2 separate regions of the Homo sapiens genome follow, and region 2 is linked to region 1. Evidence: fine-mapped expression QTL. A gene starts in region 1. The other region holds a variant in brackets. All regions are shown on one strand. Distances are from middle to middle.

The links. PIP is the estimated chance that this variant, and not a neighbour inherited with it, causes the effect.
Region 2: its variant is fine-mapped to the expression of SCRIB in whole blood (TOPMed, PIP above 0.99). The same link has a PIP of 0.9 or more in thyroid and tibial nerve.

Annotation. Positions count from the first base shown.
Region 1 is chr8:143,810,814-143,818,813 of GRCh38, reverse strand. SCRIB (scribble planar cell polarity protein) reads left to right here and starts at 3,041. Exons shown (of 37, transcript NM_182706.5): 1 at 3,041-3,600; 2 at 4,696-4,813; 3 at 4,918-4,996; 4 at 5,088-5,177; 5 at 5,288-5,344; 6 at 5,440-5,503; 7 at 5,710-5,784; 8 at 5,853-5,997; 9 at 6,430-6,548; 10 at 7,469-7,668; 11 at 7,742-7,908; 12 at 7,998-8,000. The coding sequence starts at 3,442. It overlaps PUF60 (poly(U) binding splicing factor 60), which reads left to right. Exons shown (of 12, transcript NM_078480.3): 6 at 280-441; 7 at 529-621; 8 at 739-952; 9 at 1,032-1,222; 10 at 1,348-1,483; 11 at 1,669-1,904; 12 at 1,995-2,470. The coding sequence ends at 2,294. MIR937 (microRNA 937) reads left to right here and starts at 5,772; the gene lies at 5,772-5,857. RefSeq lists enhancers at 2,449-3,081, 3,082-3,714, 3,999-4,663.
Region 2 is chr8:143,783,620-143,798,002 of GRCh38, reverse strand. It overlaps IQANK1 (IQ motif and ankyrin repeat containing 1), which reads right to left. Exons shown (of 14, transcript NM_001381874.1): 8 at 8,940-9,088; 9 at 8,760-8,814; 10 at 8,475-8,567; 11 at 8,134-8,242; 12 at 7,939-8,032; 13 at 7,732-7,866; 14 at 7,358-7,653. The coding sequence ends at 7,395. SCRIB (scribble planar cell polarity protein) reads left to right here. Exons shown (of 37, transcript NM_182706.5): 25 at 2,473-2,583; 26 at 2,670-2,726; 27 at 2,891-2,965; 28 at 4,041-4,103; 29 at 4,920-5,027; 30 at 5,136-5,295; 31 at 5,368-5,518; 32 at 5,598-5,783; 33 at 5,870-6,012; 34 at 6,090-6,127; 35 at 6,263-6,337; 36 at 6,563-6,614; 37 at 6,695-7,078. The coding sequence ends at 6,840. Among named protein-coding and RNA genes, the nearest start is that of MIR937, 22 kb to the left of the region's middle. The variant C/G (reference allele first, on the strand shown) is at 4,430.

The DNA.
Region 1 (8,000 bases):
CCTCCTGACCATCTGTCGGCTTTGCTGCCGCAGTCTGCCTGGGACCTTGGCGGGCTGGGGTGCGTCCTGTCCTGCCGCTGGGCCTGGCCTTCCTTCTTTGGGTGGCGGGGTCCTGCGACCCCCACACTATGACTGCAGGGATGGAGCCCGCACCTCCCTGTCATGTGGGGAGCCCTCCCCACAGCAGGGCTGGGTGGGTGGGCCAGGAGGGGAGTGGGCTGCCCAGCTTCCTGCCGCCCCTGACGAGCCAGCGGTTCTCTCCCCTCTGTCCTGCTGCAGATGGCGGCTCAGCGGCAGCGGGCGCTGGCCATCATGTGCCGCGTCTACGTGGGCTCTATCTACTATGAGCTGGGGGAGGACACCATCCGCCAGGCCTTTGCCCCCTTTGGCCCCATCAAGAGCATCGACATGTCCTGGGACTCCGTCACCATGAAGCACAAGGTCAGCAGGCTTGGTCCGCCCCGGCCACTTCGGGCTCGCCCCCACCCCTGGGCTCGCGCAGCCTGACAGGTGTGTCCCTGTGTCTAGGGCTTTGCCTTCGTGGAGTATGAGGTCCCCGAAGCTGCACAGCTGGCCTTGGAGCAGATGAACTCGGTGATGCTGGGGGGCAGGAACATCAAGGTGAGGCAGGGAGCCAAGGCCTCGATCCCGCAGGCGTGCAGGGCTGCCCCTCCACGGAAGCCTTTTGTGGCCGGGCCTGGGTTGACCGGTCTTTCCATCTCACCGCCTCTTCCCCAGGTGGGCAGACCCAGCAACATAGGGCAGGCCCAGCCCATCATAGACCAGTTGGCTGAGGAGGCACGGGCCTTCAACCGCATCTACGTGGCCTCTGTGCACCAGGACCTCTCAGACGATGACATCAAGAGCGTGTTTGAGGCCTTTGGCAAGATCAAGTCCTGCACACTGGCCCGGGACCCCACAACTGGCAAGCACAAGGGCTACGGCTTCATTGGTGAGCTGGGGTGGCTGAGGCGGGATGGGGGCCACCTGAGGCTGGGGCTGGCCCTGCTCACTGCTGCTCCTGCCCACAGAGTACGAGAAGGCCCAGTCGTCCCAAGATGCTGTGTCTTCCATGAACCTCTTTGACCTGGGTGGCCAGTACTTGCGGGTGGGCAAGGCTGTCACACCGCCCATGCCCCTACTCACACCAGCCACGCCTGGAGGCCTCCCACCTGCCGCTGCTGTGGCAGCTGCTGCAGCCACTGCCAAGATCACAGCTCAGGTGAGGGCCCACACAGCTGTCGGCTTGAGGGTGGGCGGGCTGGCCCCTGATTCCTTGGAGACTGATTCAAGGTGGTCTTGAGTAGCCAGACCAGGGACTGAGCACGGTGACCTTTTGGGTTGCAGGAAGCAGTGGCCGGAGCAGCGGTGCTGGGTACCCTGGGCACACCTGGACTGGTGTCCCCAGCACTGACCCTGGCCCAGCCCCTGGGCACTTTGCCCCAGGCTGTCATGGCTGCCCAGGCACCTGGAGTCATCACAGGTGAGTCTTAAGTGGTACCAGATCCTCTCCTCTCCTGTCCTGGCATCTCTCGGCTCGCTGCCCTCAGCTGCCTGGCCCTGGTGGTCTGGGCACAACCCTCTGAGCCCAGGGCAGGCCAGCTCTGTGCCTTTCTGGGAAGGGGGGTGGTAGGGAGTGACTGATGGACCTGGTTGGTTTTCCTGCAGGTGTGACCCCAGCCCGTCCTCCTATCCCGGTCACCATCCCCTCGGTGGGAGTGGTGAACCCCATCCTGGCCAGCCCTCCAACGCTGGGTCTCCTGGAGCCCAAGAAGGAGAAGGAAGAAGAGGAGCTGTTTCCCGAGTCAGAGCGGCCAGAGATGCTGAGCGAGCAGGAGCACATGAGCATCTCGGGCAGTAGCGCCCGACACATGGTGATGCAGAAGCTGCTCCGCAAGCAGGAGGTAGGCAGAGGGGCAGGGTGGTGGCGGGGGAGAGGGTAGGGGGGCGGGGCCGCAGTGCTCAGCTGTCTTCCCCTCGGCCCTGCCCCACAGTCTACAGTGATGGTTCTGCGCAACATGGTGGACCCCAAGGACATCGATGATGACCTGGAAGGGGAGGTGACAGAGGAGTGTGGCAAGTTCGGGGCCGTGAACCGCGTCATCATCTACCAAGAGAAACAAGGCGAGGAGGAGGATGCAGAAATCATTGTCAAGATCTTTGTGGAGTTTTCCATAGCCTCTGAGACTCATAAGGCCATCCAGGCCCTCAATGGCCGCTGGTTTGCTGGCCGCAAGGTGGTGGCTGAAGTGTACGACCAGGAGCGTTTTGATAACAGTGACCTCTCTGCGTGACAGTGGTCCCTCTCCCCGGACTTGCACTTGTTCCTTGTTTCCTCTGGGTTTTATAGTGATACAGTGGTGTCCCCGGGGCCAGGCGCGCTCTGCCCAGCCCAGCCTACAGTGCGGATAAAGGTGCGGATGCTGCTGGCCCTGAACGTCCGTGTGTCTGCCGTCGGTCCTGTCACCGATCCTGGGCGTGTGTCCTTAGGGGGTCTAGGGCGAGGAGGCAGGGTTGGGGGGGTCTCTGGACCTGCTTCCTGTTGGCAGGAGGGGCCTGCCGTGGGCGAGACCTGGGCAGGGGGTTGGCGCCCCGGGCCCCGTCCCGCGGGTGGCGGCGGCTGGGTGGGCGGGGCTGCCTGGGGCGCCAGGCTCTCGCGCGCGGGCTCGCAGCCGTCCCCGCAGGGTGGTGCTGAGAGAAGGCTGGGCACCGGGACACCGCGACCCGCTGGACAGCGCGCGCTGCCAGTGCTTTTGTGCCGCAGAGCCGGCCGTCCAAGGCGGGCGGGCGGGCATGGTCGCTTCCCGGGAGGAGGCTGTGCGTTAAGATTCGTGGCCAAATGCCGCGGGGCCAGGGGCCGGGCTGAAGACCGGAGGGCGGAGGGCGCCGCCTCTCGTGGATTGTAGCTCCCAATATCCCGCGCGCGGGGCGGGCCCGGCTTCCCGGCACGCTTTGCGCGGTGCCGCTACGGGTCCTCAGAGGCGGCGGCGCGCGGGGCCTTCTGGGGGCCGCAGTCCGGGCGTGCTAGGCGGCGAGGGCCGGACTCGGCTTCCCGACGGGCTGCGCGGCGGCCGGGTGGGTGTCGGCGGGGCAGTCCGGCGGGCAGCGGCGGTTCCGGTGCGGCACAGCGGGCGGACGAGCGGGCGGGACGAGCTGAGCAGGACCAAGCGGGATGCGGAGCCGCCGCCGCCGCCGCTCCCCGCGCTTCCTAAGAGTCTGAGACCCGCCGGGCCGCGCCCCCTGCCCAGGCCCGCAGTCCGAGCGTTCCGAGCGCGGGCCGGGCCCAGCGCCGGCCGCGGCCGCGTCCCCGTCCAGTCTCGGGCGGCCCGCCCCCTGCCTGCGCCCCCTCCCCATGCGCGGCGCCCATGCGGACTGAGCCCCGCCCCCCGGCCCCGAGCCCGCCGAGCGCCGCCGCCGGAGCCCGCGCCGCCCACCCGCACCATGCTCAAGTGCATCCCGCTGTGGCGCTGCAACCGGCACGTGGAGTCGGTGGACAAGCGGCACTGTTCGCTGCAGGCCGTGCCGGAGGAGATCTACCGCTACAGCCGCAGCCTGGAGGAGCTGCTGCTCGACGCCAACCAGCTGCGCGAGCTGCCCAAGGTGAGCGGCCGCCCGCACCTGCCGCCCAAAGGCGCGCCCCCAGCCCGTGATTCCTCCGGCGGCAGAATCTGCCCGGGCGAGTCACCGCAGCCTCCAGCCGGCCCTGCTGGTTTGCACTGGCCAGGTCCCCACCCCAGCCAGCCCCACCCTTCTCTTCCAGCCGCCCTGGCTGGCGCAGGTGGCAGCGGTCATCAGGTGCTTGCCTGGGGATAGCGATTGTCACCGAGCCTGGAGGCGGAGCCTCAGAGTGAAACCCGTGGGGATTCAGGGAGGTGGATGGGGTTAGGGTGGAACTTGGATTCAGGTGGCTGATGAGTACTAGCTTCTTGGGCCGCTCTGGAGGTGGGTCCAGACCTCCTCTCCTTTTTTGCTGGGTGCAGGGGTGAGTGGGGGAGCCCTCTTGATGTACTCTTTGCTCTCGGATCTGTTCGCTGTCCCCCTTTCTTTACCCTTGCTTCTCGTGGTCAGGTGCTCTCCTAAGGCTGCTACAAGAAAGGAGGCTGGAGAAAGCAGATTAAAAAGTATTTCTTTTCTGGAGATGGGGTGCTGGGTGATCAGTACCTAGGGGTTGGGTGTCCCAAAGAATGTGACCCTGTTCTGGCCGTGGCAGTGACAGCTCGGTCCTCTGTGGCCACCTGCAGGCCTCGCGCGTAGCACTGTGCCTGTGGTACTGTGTTATTGTGGGGAGCGTTTACTGAGTTCTTGCTGCAGAACCAGGCCAGGCTTGTTGTCAGGATGCAGTAGCAGAGGCCAGTGTGGGCCCCTGGAGGGTGGCAGAAGTGGTTCAGGGGCTGGGTGGGCCCTGAGGTAAGACACAGGGTAGGGGATTGGGGCTTTGTCTGGTCGCCAGCAGGTGTCTTCTCAGAGTGGAGGCTGGTGTGAAGAGTAGAGGGAGGCAGCCACAGTGGGCGTGTGTACCGTGTGTTTCTTTCCTTTTTTTGCAAATGGGGTGTCGTGGTTAGACCCCAGGACCCGGTGTGACCTGGAGCAGACAGAGGCCTAGGGACTCTTGACTTGTGACACTCACGTGTCCAGGAGCTCTTCTCTGCTCTGCAGTGGTCTCTGCCACAGAGTCCGTGTCCTCCCTGCCCACAGCCTTTTTTCCGGCTGCTGAACTTGCGCAAGCTGGGCCTGAGCGACAACGAGATCCAGCGGTTGCCTCCCGAGGTGGCCAACTTCATGCAGCTGGTGGAGCTGGACGTGTCCCGGAACGGTGGGGAGCCTGGGCAGGGGCTGGGTGGGGTCTGGGGAGTGTCCGCTGGGGCTGCAGACGGCCTGCAGGCCATGGCATCTGTCCACTGTGACCCTCTGTGACAGATATCCCTGAGATCCCGGAGAGCATCAAGTTCTGCAAGGCTCTGGAGATCGCGGACTTCAGCGGGAACCCCCTCTCCAGGTGGGTGGCAGCCTGTGGTGGGGTCGGTAGGGGCTATGGGTCCCACAGCCCTGGACTGGTCATCCGAGGGCCTCTGCTTCCTCCCATCCAGGCTCCCTGATGGCTTCACTCAGCTGCGCAGCCTGGCTCACCTGGCCCTGAATGATGTGTCTCTGCAGGCACTGCCCGGGGACGTGGGCAAGTGAGTGCCTTCTCAGGTGGAACTAGGGTGGGGTGGGGGACCAGGATTGGCCCTGCCCCTGCTGCCACTGCTTTCCTTCCTCTTGCCCCAGCGCCTGGTCTCTCTTTCAGCCTCGCCAACCTGGTGACCCTGGAGCTCCGGGAGAACCTGCTCAAGTCCCTGCCAGCGTGAGTGTGACAGGCATTCTCCTAACAGCCAGGGCAGGGCCACAGCCCAGGGACCAGGGCTGCGTGGCCACACCTCCACCCTGCTTCCTCTGCAGGTCCCTGTCATTTCTGGTCAAGCTGGAACAGCTGGATCTGGGAGGCAACGATCTGGAAGTGCTGGTGCGTGGAGGCCTGACAGGGCAGAGACCGGAGGGCGGGCCACGGAAGCAAGGGCAAAGAAGGGGACAGCGAGCAGATCCGACAGCAAGGGGCACCTCGGGAGGGCAGGCGGGTGGGAGCTGGGTGTGGGGGCGTATAGTCTCTTGAGCACGGCGCAGCAGGAGGCTTTGCCTCATAGTCACTATTTTCTCTGTTCCTTCTTGCAGCCAGACACTCTGGGGGCTCTGCCCAATCTTCGGGAGCTGTGGCTTGACCGGAACCAGCTGTCAGCACTGCCCCCGGTGAGTCAGGGTGGGGCTGGCCCCCTGCTTCGTGCCCATCCGCGCTCTGACTCTCTGCCCACCTGCAGGAGCTCGGGAACCTGCGGCGCCTGGTGTGCCTGGACGTGTCGGAAAACCGGCTGGAGGAGCTGCCTGCTGAGCTCGGCGGGCTGGTGCTGCTCACTGACCTGCTGCTGTCCCAGAACCTGCTGCGGAGGCTGCCCGACGGCATCGGTTAGTGTGCCTGGGGGTGCCTGGGTGGGGCACACGGAGCCTGGCCCTGGGAGGAGCGTGGGGCGTCGGGGCTGTGTGTGGTGTGGAACACAGGGGAGGATCCTGAGTGTGCCCAGGCTCTGGGAGCTGTCCCTGGGGAGGGGAGGTGGGACCCTGGGGCAGCCCAGAAGGCTGAGGAGGCAGCTGGTGGTGCTGGAGGGGGCGGTGGAGTCTGTGAGGGCGGAAGGGTGGCAGTGCCACTGGGGCCTGGTGTTTTCTTGAAGGAGGTTGGGTCAGGCTTGTGGGGCAAGGTAGGTAGGGTCCTCCCGAAGTACGGCGGCGGCAGAAGGGGCTGGGGGCCTTGCTGTCTGCCTTGAGGGCGCTTCTGGCCAGGTGGGTAAGGCACGTCTGGGGACCATGCTCAGCCTTGTCCCCCTGTCTCCCCGACGCCAGGTCAGCTGAAGCAGCTATCCATCCTAAAGGTAGACCAGAATCGGCTGTGCGAGGTGACCGAGGCCATCGGGGACTGTGAGAACCTCTCTGAGCTGATCCTCACGGAGAACCTGCTGATGGTAGGGTCTGGCTTGGGAGGCAGAAAGGATGGGGCCGTCGGGGGTGCAGAACAAGGACAGGGCATCAGCCTGTGTCTGCTGCTGGGGGGTGCTGGTGGCAGCCTGACGTGGAGCCACTCAGGAAGGGCTCTTCTCTTGTCAGAGGGGGAGCATGCTGGCCGGAGGTGAGGCGGGGCAGTGAGGCCAGGGCAGGGGCCTTTGCCGTTTACCGTGAAGAATCTAGGTCTCGTGTTTATCGCTGTATGTTGTAACACTGGGGAGCGGTTACAGAAGAGGCAGGAATGGGAACTTATTTGTCTGTAGGGAAGACAGATGGAGAGCAGGCTGCTCCCCAGGGGCGTCTGCCTGCCCCTCACAAAGCAGGGCAAGCTGAGGCACCAGGCCACGGTTCGGGACGGTGGTGTTGCTATCCCCATCCCCAGGCTGGGAAACAGGAGCTAGCTGTGGGGAGGGTGTTCATGGGAGTTTCCGGGGGGGTTCCTCACTGGGGAGATGGAGAAAGGGACTCTGGGGTTCAGGGCCCTGGGAAGGGGCTGGCCCTGAGCAGGCAGGCTGGAACTGGGGGCCTGGGGAGCCCTAGGGATGACAGGGCAGACCAGTGGGGCACCAGACAGGCTCACAGGGCGCAGCCTCGCAGGTCAGTCCAGGGCACCCATGGGAGAGGGTCAGGGATGACCTGGTGGGGTGTTTTGGTGGTGGGGACTGAAGGCTGAGGGCAGTGGGCAGAGCTTGGGGAGCAGAGGGCACGAAGTGGGGTGGAGACAGCTTCTGTGGTCAGGTCCTTGTCCCGGTCTCCAGGGGCTGTGAGGGACCCTGGCTGGAGCTGGCCTGGGGTGTCTGTGCCCTCCTGCCAGGGGCTGTCATCTCCTTCCCACCCCCAGCAAGCCCCTAGCGTCCTCTGACCTCCTCTTCTTGGCCAGGCCCTGCCCCGCTCCCTGGGAAAGCTGACTAAGCTGACCAACCTCAACGTGGACCGGAACCACCTCGAGGCGCTGCCGCCCGAGATCGGGGGCTGTGTGGCACTCAGCGTCCTCTCCTTGAGGGACAACCGCCTGGCCGTCCTGCCACCAGAGCTGGCCCACACGACAGAGCTGCACGTGCTGGACGTGGCGGGGAACCGGTGAGTGCCAGCCTTGCCCTGCGGGCCTAACCGTGGCCCCAACGCCTGCTGACTGTGCCCGCCCGGCCCGCAGCCTGCAGAGTCTGCCGTTCGCGCTCACCCACCTCAATCTCAAGGCCCTGTGGCTGGCAGAGAACCAGGCGCAGCCCATGCTCCGGTTCCAGACGGAGGATGATGCCCGGACCGGCGAGAAGGTGCTCACCTGCTACTTGCTGCCCCAGCAGCCCCCACCCAGCCTCGGTAGGTTGTTGGCAACCGGTGCTTAGCGCGGGGTGGCTCTCAGGCAGGGTTTGGGGACTAGCCTGGGTCCTGACGCTCACCTGCTGCAGAGG
Region 2 (14,383 bases), 24 kb after region 1:
AGTTTTGGTTTATTCTGCCATTTGTTTCTCTTTGAAAAATGTAAGCACATACATAAATGAATTTTAAACTTAGAGAAAAGTTGCAAAAACAGGACAAAGAACCTCTGACACTCAGCCCTATTCATGGCTCACCCACTGCGCCGGGGACGTGCTCCGTCGTGGAAGGGCGCGGCCCGATCCCTGTGGGGCTTGGCCACCGCATCCCTCTAGTCTCCTTCGGTCGGAGCGTGCCTCTGTCTTTGCTGATTTCTCTGACCTTGACGCTTCTGCTGGGCGTAGGCCCTGCCTGCAGTGACTGCCCCCACGCTGGGTCTGATGTCCTCACAGGCTTCAGCGTGTGCATCTTGGCCGGGATTATCATGGAGCTACCACGTGTCTGTGTGCCTACCACCAGGGCTCACTGGTGATGCTCTGAACCGTGGGGTCAGCCAGGTTTCCCCCTGCAGTTACTCCTGCCCCTTGAAATCAGCAAGTGAGGAAGGTGCTTTGAGAGCATATAATAGGCTGTTTCTCATCCAGCTTCGCCTGTGAGCCTCAGCACCTTGATGGTTCTGAGCGGGCCCCGAGGTGGTTGGCGACATTCCTGACCCACCACTGCCATACTCATCAGGCAGCTTCCTGCCACCGAGCCTTCCCTTCTCCCAGTTTATGTGTGTCTGCTTACCTGTTCACGTGGGCTCACAAGGGAGTCCATTTCATTAACAAGTGAGCTTCCATTTTATTTCATGGGCGACAGCCTTTTACCATCGTAATTTATTTTGAGGCTCAAATTGTCCCAGCCTTGGCCCACGGAAGGGGCTTGAGGACCTGAGGCATTCTGACACGACCTCCCCTCTCTCAGCAGCCCCTCACCTTCTGCCTCCAGGATGTGCTGGGCTTCTCTCCATACCCTGCCCAGCCCTGGAGTTGCCCCTTTCTCTCAGGAGCGCTGGATCCTTTTAGTGGAGAGTGACATTTAGAAGCTGTGGTCTGGCCCTGGACCCAGCGTTCTTGGGGTGTCATCTCGGGACCTCCTGGGGGCCAGAGCTGGAGGGTATGCCGGTCATTCCCAAGGTTATTCTTGGAACAGTAGAAGAGGGTGAGCTCCTAGTGGCTGTCGGAGTCAGCACCCGGGTCTGCCTTTTCTGTGTTTGAACAGCTCTCTCTGACATGAGAGGCCGGGCTACCTGGGACCTTGCTTCCCACTCTGCCAGGACCCCTGCCTCTCTTGGACCTGCCCAGTGGCTTTTTGACTTGTTATTTCAGAAACTGAGAAGACAGGCACCTTGTTTGTTGTTTGTCCCGCTAGTCCTGTGAGTCTGAAAGAGACGTAGCTAAGTCTGCCTGTGTAACTGTGCTTTTACGACACTCGCGTTTCTAGTCTTTGCTTTCTGTGTTTAGCTGCTTCCTTGTTGAGCGCTTACAGTTGATGACTGTATCATCGTTGTAAACAGCATCTTCTGTGGTGACGGCATCCGTCTGCCTGCTCGACAGCTCTGAACTCACACCCTTTCTCCCCCGGCCTGAGCAGCCCCTCCCTGTGCCTCCCGTGTGTTTGCCTGGCATCTCTTTGCCTGCCCCTTACTTACCATTTCAGCTGTGTTTTTAACCAACAGTACAGGGCTGGGTTTGTCCCTGAGGCCACACTGAGAGCTCCTCGATTTTGCAGGGACCCCGTCTGTGATGAGGGCGGTGAGCAATGCCTGTGTCCACTGTGCTGCCTCCTCCGCTGCTTCTGGCTGCTGCTGGGGGTGGAGGTTTGAAGCAGTCCCGTTGCCCGCCGCAGGCTTGGAAGTCAGCTCTTCCCATGGTTCCCTCTGCCCGTGTTAACCCCAGGCTCGGGATTCAAGTACATCTTGTGCCCAACCAGAAGCCCCTGCCTGTCCTGGCCCTGTCTCCTCGCCCCCCTCTGCCCTGCCTGAGCTATCTGAGTGCCTTTCCTTTCTAGACGCCCCCTCCGCCCTGCCAGTCTCTGGCTTGGGACAGGTGATTGAGCTCTGGGGAGTGCAGAGCTGGCCGGGCCTCCTGCATGGTGTCCCTTGTTTCAGAATCCCTGCCCAGCACTCACACTGGGGTCTGGAGCCAGCCTTTCCACCCGAGGGGGCCGTTCTGCCCCATCAGTTCCAGTGCCTGCTACTCACGCCCCTCCTTCCCCCATCTTGGTGGCTGTCAGCTCTTCCTGGGGATGACTTTACACAGTCAGCAGAGTGGCAGGCATCATGCTACTTCACAGTCTTGCCTAGTGCAGACGTGACCACGTCCACGGCAGCCCTGTGAGCTGTGATGGGGACCGGCCGGGGACAGTGCTGCAGCGTCCTGGGGGGCCCAGCGGAGTGCCCTCCAAGGCTGCCCCAGCCACGCGGTCAGCCCTGCCCAGGGACGCGGCTCCTGGGCTCACCGTTGCTGACTATTCTGGGCTGGGACCCCAGCCTGCCCCAGAGGTGGGACCCCGGGTTGCAGTCCCCCCTTCTTAGCCCACACCCCTCTTCTCAGGTGTCCCCAGGTGTCATTGCCAACCCCTTTGCGGCAGGCATCGGCCACCGGAACAGCCTGGAGAGCATCTCTTCCATCGACCGGGAGCTGAGCCCTGAGGGCCCAGGCAAGGTCAGAGGTGCCTGCAGCCGGCAGCCCCAGGGCCAGGGAGCCCGAGGCCGGTGGTGCCTGACGGGTCTGCTCTGCTCTGCTCACAGGAGAAGGAGCTGCCTGGACAGACCCTGCACTGGGGGCCCGAGGCCACAGAAGCCGCAGTGAGTGTGGTCGCCCCACCCCCTCACATCAGGGCACTGGAGCGGGGTGCACATTGCCTGTGGGGTGCTGGGTAGTAACCCCCAGGACCCCCTCTCCTGCCCTGTGCTGGCCGGGTGCTGCCACGGAGCTACCCCTGCTAGTGCTGTGTTCACTCTGCCCCCAGGGTCGGGGTCTGCAGCCCCTGAAGCTGGACTACCGCGCCCTGGCCGCCGTGCCCAGCGCTGGCAGCGTGCAGAGGGTGAGTGCCCAGTGTGCAGTGCCCCCCACCTCCGTCCTGTTGTCCTGTTCATCGGCCACCCCAGGACAAACGCCAGGGCCATCCGGGAGGGAACCTTTGGGCGGGGGCTGGGGTGGGAGGAGGCCACGTCTGACCTGCAGGCTACCCCAGCCTGGCACATGCTTATCACCCTCATTCTCAACCCAAGCCATGTTGGTGCTGCCCCACCCACACACCCTGAGCTGCGGATGGGTGACACAGGCCGAGGCATCCCTCTAGTGGCGGTGCGAGAGCTTCACCTGCTGCTGCTGGGGCTGCCCAGCCCCAGAGGGTGCGAGTGGGGGCAGAGGCTCCTGGGGGATTGGGCAGGCACATGTCCCCAAGGGGAGGACAGGCTGGAGCAGCTGGAGGGGCGGGTGCTGGGGACAGGCAGGAGGATGTGCAGGCCCATCCCTCCCCTTAGAGATACAAATAACCCTCCCAGAGGGTGCGCCCCACCAGCCCCACCGAACGTGAGTGCCGAGGGGTGGCTCCTGCAGGCCCTTGCCCAAGCGGTGGGGTGGTGGTGAGGGGCCAGGCAGGGCCTGGATCTGAGGCAGCGCATTCGGGGGCTCTTGGGTACTGACCCTGCCTCCTCTGGCCATGGGCAGCGCCAAGAGGGAGGCTTCCGGGAGGCCCTTCATCCTCATGAACAACAGCACAGTCATGGGGGCAGCAGTCAGGGCGCCACTGAGCCCTGAGGGCTGCACACCACAAGTAGGGGCTCCCCACCATCACCTCTGTCTCTGGCCCCTCCCCCGAGCCCTCCCTGCTCTCTTCTCCGGCTGTCCTGTCTGCTCCCATCTCTCCTGCAAAGCTCCAGCCAGCACACTGCCATGGAGACAGCAGCTGCCCAGCCCAGGCCCCCGCATCCTGTGGGAACGGGGACGAGCCCCTCCGTGCTGACCGAGTGTCTGGGGCATCCCCTGGGCTATAGTCAGGTTGGGGAACTGAAGAGCTGCTGTGGCTTTTAGGCAAGCCCCAGGGCCCCCAGTCCCTCCTGGTCGGGGGCCACAGCCCTGCCCATCCTCACCCCACCCACTGCCTACTCCTCCAGGTACCGTCTGGAGCAGCTGGAGGGAAGATGGCTGAATCTCCCTGCTCCCCTAGTGGCCAGCAGGTGAGTGTCCCAAGTTAACGGGTGTGCCCCATGGTGGGTGGAGGGCAGGGCAGATGGCCGCTGTGCACAGGGCCCCTCCTCCAGGGATGGGGGGTCAGGGGCCATCGTGGGGTGCTGTTGACTCCGGTTTTCCCTCTGCTACCATGGGGCCTCCTGTGTGAGGAAGGCCAGGGACGCTTTCCTGGCCAGAGCTGCCTGGCGATGGGGTGGGGGGCCTGAGTGTGCTGTTCCTGGAGGGGCTCAAGCTCCTGAGACCCCAGTCAGTGTCTCAGGCCCAACACCTCCCAGGGCCCACCTTATCCCTGCCTGCCTTTTGTCTGGGGGTC[C/G]TTGCCCCCCCACTGTTGGCACCTCCCAACACACTGCCACGTGGGGGTGGAGGTGGCAGCCCCCATGAGACCCAGCCCCAGCTCAGCCCCTCACAGGCAAGATGTCAGCCCCACCCAGGTTGGTCGGTCTCTCTCTCTCTGTCTCTCCCACCCCCCTCTCTACCCCCGTCCCTTGCCTTAAACCCCTGATCCTGCTCTCCTCTGCCCCCGCCGCCCCCACCTGCCTTTTTTAGACAAAACCAGGGGTGATCCAGCCATTGGCTCAGGCCTGGCCAAGGGGCTCCCCAGCCCCCAGGGGCAGAGGTTGTCCCCACTCCGTGAGTGCTCTGTCCCGTGGGTGGGGGTGGCAGAGCCTCCTTCCCCAGCAGGATGGTGGGTGGGGATCAAAGGCAGGCGGGGGGACAGGCGGGGGGACAGCCGGTGGTGAGTTGCACACAGCTGCAGCCCCGACAGCTGCCCCAGCATAGCTCACAAGAGCCCCACCCCCCAGCCGCCCTCCCCGCCTTCTCCGGATGAGCTGCCCGCCAATGTGAAGCAGGCCTACAGGGCCTTCGCGGCCGTGCCCACTTCTCACCCGCCTGAGGATGCCCCTGCCCAGGTGTGTGGGGGCAGCACGCCTCCCTGCTGCGCGTGGTTGGGGTGGGTGCCCGGGGGCCCCAGTATCTCGGAGGAATGCCAGCCAAACCTCAAGGTCCGCTCCCCCCAGCCCCCCACGCCTGGGCCTGCAGCCTCCCCGGAGCAGCTGTCCTTCCGGGAGCGGCAGAAGTACTTTGAGCTGGAGGTGCGCGTGCCCCAGGCCGAGGGCCCCCCTAAGCGCGTGTCCCTGGTGGGTGCTGACGACCTGCGGAAGATGCAGGAGGAGGAAGGTGAGGGGCACGGAAGTGGGGTGGGGGTTGGGTCTCGGCTGGTCTGGCCTGACCCACCCTGCCCTCCGGCAGCCAGAAAACTACAGCAGAAGAGAGCGCAGATGCTGCGGGAGGCGGCAGAGGCTGGGGCCGAAGCGAGGCTCGCCCTGGACGGGGAGACGCTGGGCGAGGAGGAACAGGAGGATGAGCAGCCACCCTGGGCCAGCCCGAGCCCCACCTCAAGGTGAGCACCCGCCCACCAGACGCCCCCTACTCACCCCACGTGCCCCTGCCCCCCACAGCACGTCCTGTCCCTTCCCCAGGCAGAGCCCGGCGTCCCCCCCACCCCTGGGAGGTGGCGCCCCGGTGCGGACGGCCAAAGCTGAACGGCGCCACCAGGAGCGGCTGCGCGTGCAGAGTCCGGAGCCACCGGCACCCGAGCGTGCCCTGTCCCCTGCCGAGCTCCGGGCCCTGGAGGCCGAGAAGCGTGCGCTGTGGAGGGCAGCCAGGTGAGCCCCTGTGTGGGGTCGCCACCCCGCCCTGCTGCCTGTCCCTGCTCCTGCCCCAAGTCACCCCTGCCCGCTGTTCTCTGCAGGATGAAGTCATTGGAACAGGACGCTCTCCGAGCACAGATGGTCCTCAGCAGGTCCCAGGAAGGCCGGGGCACGCGGGGGCCCCTGGAGCGACTGGCCGAGGCCCCTTCCCCTGCGCCCACCCCGTCGCCCACCCCTGTGGAAGGTCTGTGGGTCAGGGCAGGTCGGGGGGGTCAGCCTGCCGCATGGGCTGCTTCCAATGCCCGCTTCTTGTCCCCCCAGACCTCGGCCCCCAGACCAGCACCTCCCCGGGACGCCTGGTGAGGAGCCGGTGGCTATGCCTTCCCTTCACCCCCGAGGCATGGGGGTGGGGTCTGGCCTGCCCCCACCCCCGTGGCCCTCATCCCCCCCTTTCCTCTCACTCTCTGCCTCTCCCCTCACGCTGTCCTTTCAAGCCCTTGTCTGGAAAGAAGTTTGACTACAGGGCCTTTGCGGCCCTGCCTTCTTCCAGACCTGTCTATGACATCCAGGTACCTGGCCTCCAGGCCTCTGCATGCCTGCCACCCTGTCCGTGCCTGCCACCGCCCCCATCCGCTCCCGCAGGGCCTCCCCACGCTCTGCCGTGGCCCTGCCTCTTCACCCCCCCTCCCCCTTCAGCCGGGCTCTGTGGGCCTCAGGGCTGGGAGCCCACCCGTCCACCTGGGTGGTTTGGGGCAGGGCTGGCACCGGCCTGACCAACACTCTCCCCATCACAGTCACCGGACTTTGCTGAGGAGTTGAGGTCCCTGGAACCATCTCCCAGCCCTGGTGAGTTGGGGCCGGGCTGGGGTGAGCTCCCAGGAGCCCAGCTGCCCTCAGCTCACTGCCCACCTGTCCCTGCCCTCCAGGCCCGCAGGAGGAGGATGGAGAAGTGGCTCTGGTGCTTCTGGGCAGGCCCTCACCCGGCGCTGTGGGCCCTGAAGATGTGGCACTGTGCAGCAGCCGCCGCCCCGTAAGGCCTGGGCGCCGTGGCCTGGGCCCTGTGCCCTCCTAGAGGAGCAGGCACCTCCCCCAGACTTGGGGTGGGGGCCCTGCCAGCTCCAGCACCACCCTTGCCCCAAGTCTTTTAACCTGGGTGTTAGCATTTTAAAGAGACCCCACAGGAGTTCTGGCCTGTGACTAACTAACTGCCCCACCCCAGCCGAGACCTCGGCGAGACTGTAACTAGTGATGTTTGTACAACCAAAGACTCTATTTTGTGGTTTAAGGAGAATAAAGTTGACTACATTTTACCTCCCGTCTGCCTGTCCATCCCCCACCCACTAGCACAGACCCTTCCTGCCCTCCGAGGCGAGGCTGAGCTCCGAGGGCTGCACCCTCACCGTCCCTCCCACGTCTCCCGCTGCGCCTCACTGCGCACGGGTCGGCCGGGCAGGCTGCCCATCCCCAGCAGGGCCTCCCCCAAGTGCCTGCAGACCCATGTCCGCCGGCCGGGGCCCGGGACTGCCGGAGTCCTGGACTGGCACACGCCACCGCTGCCCCCACGCACGCAGCACAGATGCAGCACCGCGCCCCGGGGCACACGTTTTATTGGGACTGGGGCCAGCACTAGAGGCCTGTGCCTGGCAGCTGCACGCGCACTGGGAGCAGCACCTGCAGCTGCTCAGCTGGCGGCCACTGGACCTTGGTGACGAAAAAGAGGCGGAAGTGCTCCAGCCGCTGCTCCTGGAACTGCGTGGGGCTATACTCAGGCCCGTCCGTGGGCCGCAGCAGCGACAGGTACCTCTCCTGCACCGCCTCCAGCTGCCGCTGCACGACTGGGAACAGGTCTTCCTCTCGCAGGTCGAACACCAGCGGCTTCCCATACCTGCCCCATGAGGCTGGTGAGGCCAGGGTGGGGCTAGGGAGGTGGGGTGGGGTGTACCTGTCACCCTGCCTGCCTCACCGCAGAGCCCCCAGCAGAGCCAGCCACATCGTCTCCGGCCTCAGGGGCTCCGGGTTCACCGTGTCCACATAGTTGGTATCCTGGTAGCGCAGGAAGGTGGCCGCCTGGCCCAAAGGGTCAATAACAAGAGGCCACCTGGGGACACCCATCAGGTCACTGCTGTCTGTCCAAACCCCAAATCGCCCACGTCTGGCCCGGAGAACTGACCGGCCATCGGCACGGATGCGGTTGCCTACATCTTTCATCAGCACATCGTGCAGCTCGGTGACCTGGCACTTCAGCCCAGGCGCCTCTTCCTCCCCTGTCGGGGTAGCAGAGTGCAGCTGACAGGCAAGCCCGACGCCGGACCCCGCCCTGGGCTGTATGTCCCAGCCCCCAGCCGGCGCCCCATGCCAGGCCCACCCTCCTGCGTCTGCTCCCGAAGCTCCAGCCTGGCCATAGCCAGCGCCTCCTCGGCCTTCTGGGCCTCCTGCCGCAGCCTGTCCACCTGGGCCTCTGTGTCCTTGATGGCCTGGAGGAGGAGGCCACACTGACTTGCTTGCCCTGCCCCATGCTCTGGCTGGAGAGGGCAGCTGCCCGAGCTTCCTCCCCACCCCACCCCAAGCAGGCCACTGTCGGCTGGTGACTCCCCATGTTTGAGAGGGAAAAACCCCAGGCCTGGGAGCGGGGAGCTCTGGGCTGGTTTGGAACAAGGAGGGGTGTTGAGGACGCAGGGGCATATCAAGTCCACCACGGGCCCCCACCTGCAGCGTGAGCTTGGTCTTGTCCATGCACCTCCACTCACACTGGTCGTGCTCTGAGATCCTCCGGCTAAGCTCACAGTAGGCCTGTTGCAGCTGGGTGGGCGTACGGGCAGGCCCTGGCAAGGCTGGCCAGTATCCTCCGACCAGGTCACTCCTGGCCCAGGGGCCTGAGGACACCTCCCCTCCTGGCTCTTCCCCCAGCTTCCTGGCCCTCCCTCGGCTCCCCCTCCTCCCCACCCGGCTCTCCCTCCTCCTTTCCTGGCTCCTCCCTGAGGTCACACTCACCTCCTTGTGACACTGCTGCTGCTCCCTGGTCAGCTGTTGGACCTTGAGGGTCATACTAAGGAGCAGGAATGAGCTGGGACAGAGGCTTCCGCCAGCGCCCCCACCAGCACCCCCTGCCCGGGCTCCCTGCCAGCGCCCCTTGCCAGCACCCCTCGCCAGCACCTCCCACACCCCTCCTGCCTTCCACACCGCTCAGCCTCGGCCTCCTTGTGCCTCTGGGCCTCCTGGGCCCGGCGCTGCTGCTCAGCCTCCATGTTCTGGAGCATGGCCTCCGTGAGGCTCAGGTCCCACGAGCGCAGCACGCTCACCACTGTGTCCAGTGAGGCCACCTAGTGACAGACGACATTTGTCGGGCCCTCAGTGCGTGTTCCGAGTCTCCTCAGCCTGGAGAGGAACTGTTGCTCTCCCATCTGGGAGAAAGGGTGCCATTATGCAGAAAGGGCCTCAGTGCTCACAGCTGGTGCGTGGTGGGCCCCAAAGCATGAGCCCCTGTGGGGCTGCTGTCCCCAAAGCCCAGGCCACCCAGGCCGCTGGGAATTCTCCTGGGCTCCCTGACCAAGTCCAAGCAGGAACCTGCTCCTGTGGCTGGGCCTCCAAGGGCTTCCTTCCCCTTCAGTCCCCCAGGACCTGGCCCAGGCTTCCCGCCTCTGTCAGACTCAAGTACACGCCTGAGGCCTTGGGTGCCACTGCTGCTTCCTGAGTAGGAGGCTGGCCCGCAGGATGTGCACACTGGAGCTCCCTCCTCTGTGGTCTCCCACAGATCTCTGCCTGCAGGACACAATCCCTGGGGCCGCCGCTGCCTCTCACCCTCCTGAGTCCCCAGCACTCCAGGAGCAAGGAGTGGGTGCAGAGAGCCGGGCTCAAAGCCCAGCTGCGCCGGGTGAGTCCCTGACTTCCTGTGCCTGGCCCTCCTTGTCTGTGGAGCAGGGGTGATGCTTGGAGGGGGTCACAGTGAGGAGGAAGGAAGAGCAGGAGCTCAGAGCAGGTCCACATGCGCCTGGTGGCGGGCCAGTCCCGGCATCACGCTTGACCAGGAAGCTGTTCGTGGGTGGCTCCGTGTGTGAATGCCACTTGCCCCTTCCTGCTCTGGGAAGCAGGGGTGACCAGGGCCTGTTGTCTAGTGTGGCCAGCTCCCTAATAGCTGGATGACAGCGGAAGGAGGCAAGGCGGTAGCTGAGAAGGGCCGGGTGGGGCAGGGAGACTCTCATACTCGGAATTAGGCCTGCGAAACAGTCGGGGCCCGAGGAGCTGCTGGCTGGAGAGCAGAGGCCTGGGAGAAGAAGAGCAGGTGGCTGAAGGTGGGTGCCACAACCAAGAGCAGACCGAGAAGGTGTGGCAGGCCTGGCGACGGGGCCAGGTGGAGGTGGACAGGCACGGGCCATGGAGCAAGCAGAAGGCACTGCGTTAGGGGTGCGCGGGTGAGCGGCCGCATTCCCACAGAGCAAGGGGTTTGTGGCGTGGGAAGGATGAAGACAGGATGAGGGGAAGGAGGTGGGGTGCGCGGGTGAGCCGCCGGCGTTCCCACAGAGCAAGGGGTTCGTGGCATGGGAAGGATGAAGACAGGATGAGGGGAAAGAGCGGGGGCAGGATGAGTTCCCTGTAGCTCTTCCAGGAGACTGGCCACAGACAAGTGCAAACAGGGAGACTGAATGTGGGCAGAACTGGGAAGAACTCACAGATGCACGGGAGGGAGGGAGACACAGCAGACGAGAGGGAGAGAAGCAGTGGCGCGGCGTGGCCTTGGGTAACTGCCATCCTGGCTGAGTCGGTGCTGACTTAAGCATTTGTCTACAGATGCAGGGGGCAGAGATGGAAAGAAGGGGCAGTGTAGGGGGCCTGCAGGTCTGTGGGGGGCCAGGGACATGCAGACACGTGGTAAACTCACCTCCACGGCCACCTGATGGATCCACAGGCTAACCACGGCCTGAGGACTGCCCTGTGCTATCTGCTTCCCAGCAGCTAGGACCAAAAGTTCAAAGCCCACCAGGGCCAAAATCAAAATTTTACACAGACATTTGCTTTAAATAGAGCCCAAATATGCATACTTCTAGACATTTAGACCGACCCTGCTTGCTTTGAATACCCTGCAAAACTGAACCCACGTCTGCCAGTGGTGGATGAGACAAACCCTGGGGCTACAAAAGCCTTCAGGCTGGGCTGCCCTCTGGAGCTCCCTGGTGCCCCATCCTGCTTCTGAGCAGTTTCCCCTAGGCGTCAAGCCCTCCGTGAAAACCTGTCCAAGTGCCACCAGAATAAAGCTCACTGCGTGCTACCGCCCTCTCCTGGTCCTGTATTCCTCGATCAGCCCCCAAATCCTCCAGCCTCTGTGCCTCATTCCCTGGCAGCCACAGGGGCTCCTTCCTTGTCCCCCTCAGGATCTTACACTGGCCAGTCCTCCTGTCTGGAAGCTCCTCAGGCGTTCACAGCCCTCATTCCCTCCCCTCCAAGTTCTCCCTTGTATGCCACCTTCTCAGCAAACCCCACCTTGGCCACCTTTCTTAAAATTCCAGCCCAGCCCTGCCCGCCCTGGTAGCCTGGCATCTCCACTGCACTGTGAGTTGTGACAGAAGGGACTTTGTTTTGTTCAAGGATGGGTCCTAAGGACCTAGAACAGCTCCCAGCTCAGGTCTTCTGTCAGTTGGTCCAGTGGCTGGGCTAATCATGAACGGATGAGCTAATTCGTACATTAGCATATACCTGATTGTTTGGACAGATAAATGGGTAAACACATAGGAGAGATGACTATATAGATGTATTCATTTATGCACATTCTTCTGCACATTTATCAATGATTCTGTCTATATTTGTAAATATAAATTTGCAAATATAAACGTGGGTGGGTGAGTGAAGGAATTTATGAATATGCAAATTTGATCCTCACTTTGGGGTCCTAAGGACAGTAGCCTCCGAGTGAGGTTGACTTCAGCTTAGCTTCAAATCATCTTAATCTCTGAAGTTGGTGAAGTGACTCCAGACCGCTGGTACCCCCAATACATGGCAAAACCTAAATCCTCAGTGAAAAAAGAGTGAAAAATACCTTTCTAGGCTTCAAATGATTCCTACCAGTAAAACGTATGACATGGCCAGGCAAGGTGGCTCATGCCTGTAATCCCAGCACTTTGGGAGGCTGAGGCATGCAGATTGCTCGAGCCCAGAAGTTGAAGACCAGCCTGGGCAACATGGCAAAATCCTGTCTCTACAAACAAATAAAAAAAATTAGGCCAGGCACGGTGGCTGACGCCTGTGATCTCAGCACTTTGGAAGGCTGAGGCAGGCAGATCACAAGGTCAGGAGTTGGAGACCAGCCTGGCCAACGTGGTGAAACCCCGTCTCTACTAAAAATACAAAAATTAGCCAGGTGTGGTGGTGCGTGCCTGTAATCCCAGCTACTTGGGAGGCTGAGGCAGGAGAATTGCTTGAATCTGGGAGGTGGAGGTTGCAGTGAGCTGAGATCGTGCCACTGCATTCCAGCCTGGGTGACAGAGCAAGATTCCATCTCAGAGAAAAAAAAAAAAAAATAGCTGGGCATGGTGGCTCAAGCCTGTAGTCTTAGCTACTTGGGAAGCTGGGGCAGGAGGATCATTTGAACCCAGGGGGTCAAGGCTGCAGTTAACTGTGATCACACCACTGCACTCCAGCCTGGGTGACAGAGCAAGACCCTGTCTCAAAGAAAATAAAAAATAAAAAAGGCTGGGTCTGGTAGCTCACGCCTATAATCTCAGCACTTTGGGAAGCTGAGATGGGCAAATTACTTGAGGTCAGGAGTTCAAGACCAGCCTAGCCAACATGGCAAAACCCCATCTCTACTGAAAATACAAAAATGAGCTGATGTGGTGCTGCACACTGGTAGTCCCAGCTACTCGGGAGGCTGAGGCATGAGAATCGCTTGAACCTGGGAGGCAGAGGTTGCAGTGAGCTGAGATCATGCCACTGCACTCTAGCCTGGGTGACAGAGGAAGACTCTGTCTCAAAAAAAAAAAAAAAAAAAAAGATACAGAACAAAGGCACAGGAAAATACAAGGCAATATAAACAAAAATCTGCAGAAACTACAAATGATAGAAATAGCTCCACAAGGGATCAGGATATTAGAGTTAGCTACAGATTTTCAAATAACTATATTTACTGTGCTCAAAGAGAGACTAGATTGATTTTAGCAGAGAGCTGGAACCAAATAAAATTTTAGACATGAAAATTAAAATAACCAAAATTAAGGACAAAGTGCATGGATTTAATAACTAGCTAGATGCAGCTGAAGAGAGAATTAGTAAACTGAAAGACATGTCACAAGAAAATATCCAGAATAAACTCAAAACAAAAGGATGGAAAATACAGAAAAGAGGGTAAAAAAACTGTGGTAAGTTACTAGTGCTGATCATCAAACATGTCCGTCCTTCCACCTTCTAGACATAGTATAGGATTACACTTCCTGACCAATTTGTGGTTTTGGTGGAGCCAAATGACTAGATCTGACCAATGAGCTATAAGTAGAAGTGTTTGTGCTAGACCCTCCTCAGCTCTTTCCCTCTGGTATACTGACCAGCAATATTCAAGATGGTGGTTGCTCTGTCAGCCTGGGTCCCTAACAGACTACAGTTAGCAGAAGCCCCCTGTTAACCCTCAATGGACATGTAGCATAAGTAAAAAATAAACTCATTTTGTTTTATACCATTGAGATTTGGAGACTGCATGTTCCACAGCACATCTGTATTAGTCCATTCTCACATGGCTAAAAAGAACTACCTGAGACTGGGTAATTTATAAAGAAAAGAGGTTTAATTGACTCATGGTTCTGCAGGCTGTACAGGAAGTATGGCTAGGGATACCTCAGGAAACTTACAATCATGACAGAAGGCCAAGGGGAAGCAGGCACATTTTACATGGCTAGAGAAGGAGGAAGAGAGAGCAGGGGGAGGTGCTACATACTTCTAAACAACCAGATCTCATGAGAACTCACTATTGTGAGAAGACCATGGGGAAATCAGCCCCCGTGATCCAATCACCTCCCCCCAGGCCCCTCCTGCAACACTGAGGATTACAATTTGACATGAGATTTGGGTGGGGACATAGATCCAAAACATAGCAACATCCTAGTCTATCCTGGTTGATACAGAAATGTAGAGGCTATGGTGAGATCTACCATCTGTATATTTGGAGAGTGAGAATAAGGGCAGAAACAGAGGTAATGACTGAGAACTTTCCAAAACCCAAGCATGAAGAAAAACAAGGTGGGAAGACTTGCTTTTATCTGGTACAAGACTTGTTATAAAGCTGCTGTAGTCAAGACATGGGTATTGACACAGGATAGATCAATAGACCTATGGAACAGAACAGCGATCCCAGAACAGAGCTATAAGTATATAGACACTTGACTTAGGGCACAGTTGATGGTGTAGAGTGAGGAGGGCAGTCTTTCACAAAGACTGTGGGTGCTCTCAGGACAACTGTGCATCCATATGAGAAATAAACAAGCTTGAACATGACCTTGCACAAGGAGGACCAAAACAACGCACAGAAGTCTATTCTAGTGGATGATGGCTCTAAATGTGAAAGATGTAGAAGACTGCACCAGAAAATATCTTTATGTCCTTGGGAGGATGGAGAGACTTCTAAACTGACATAAAAG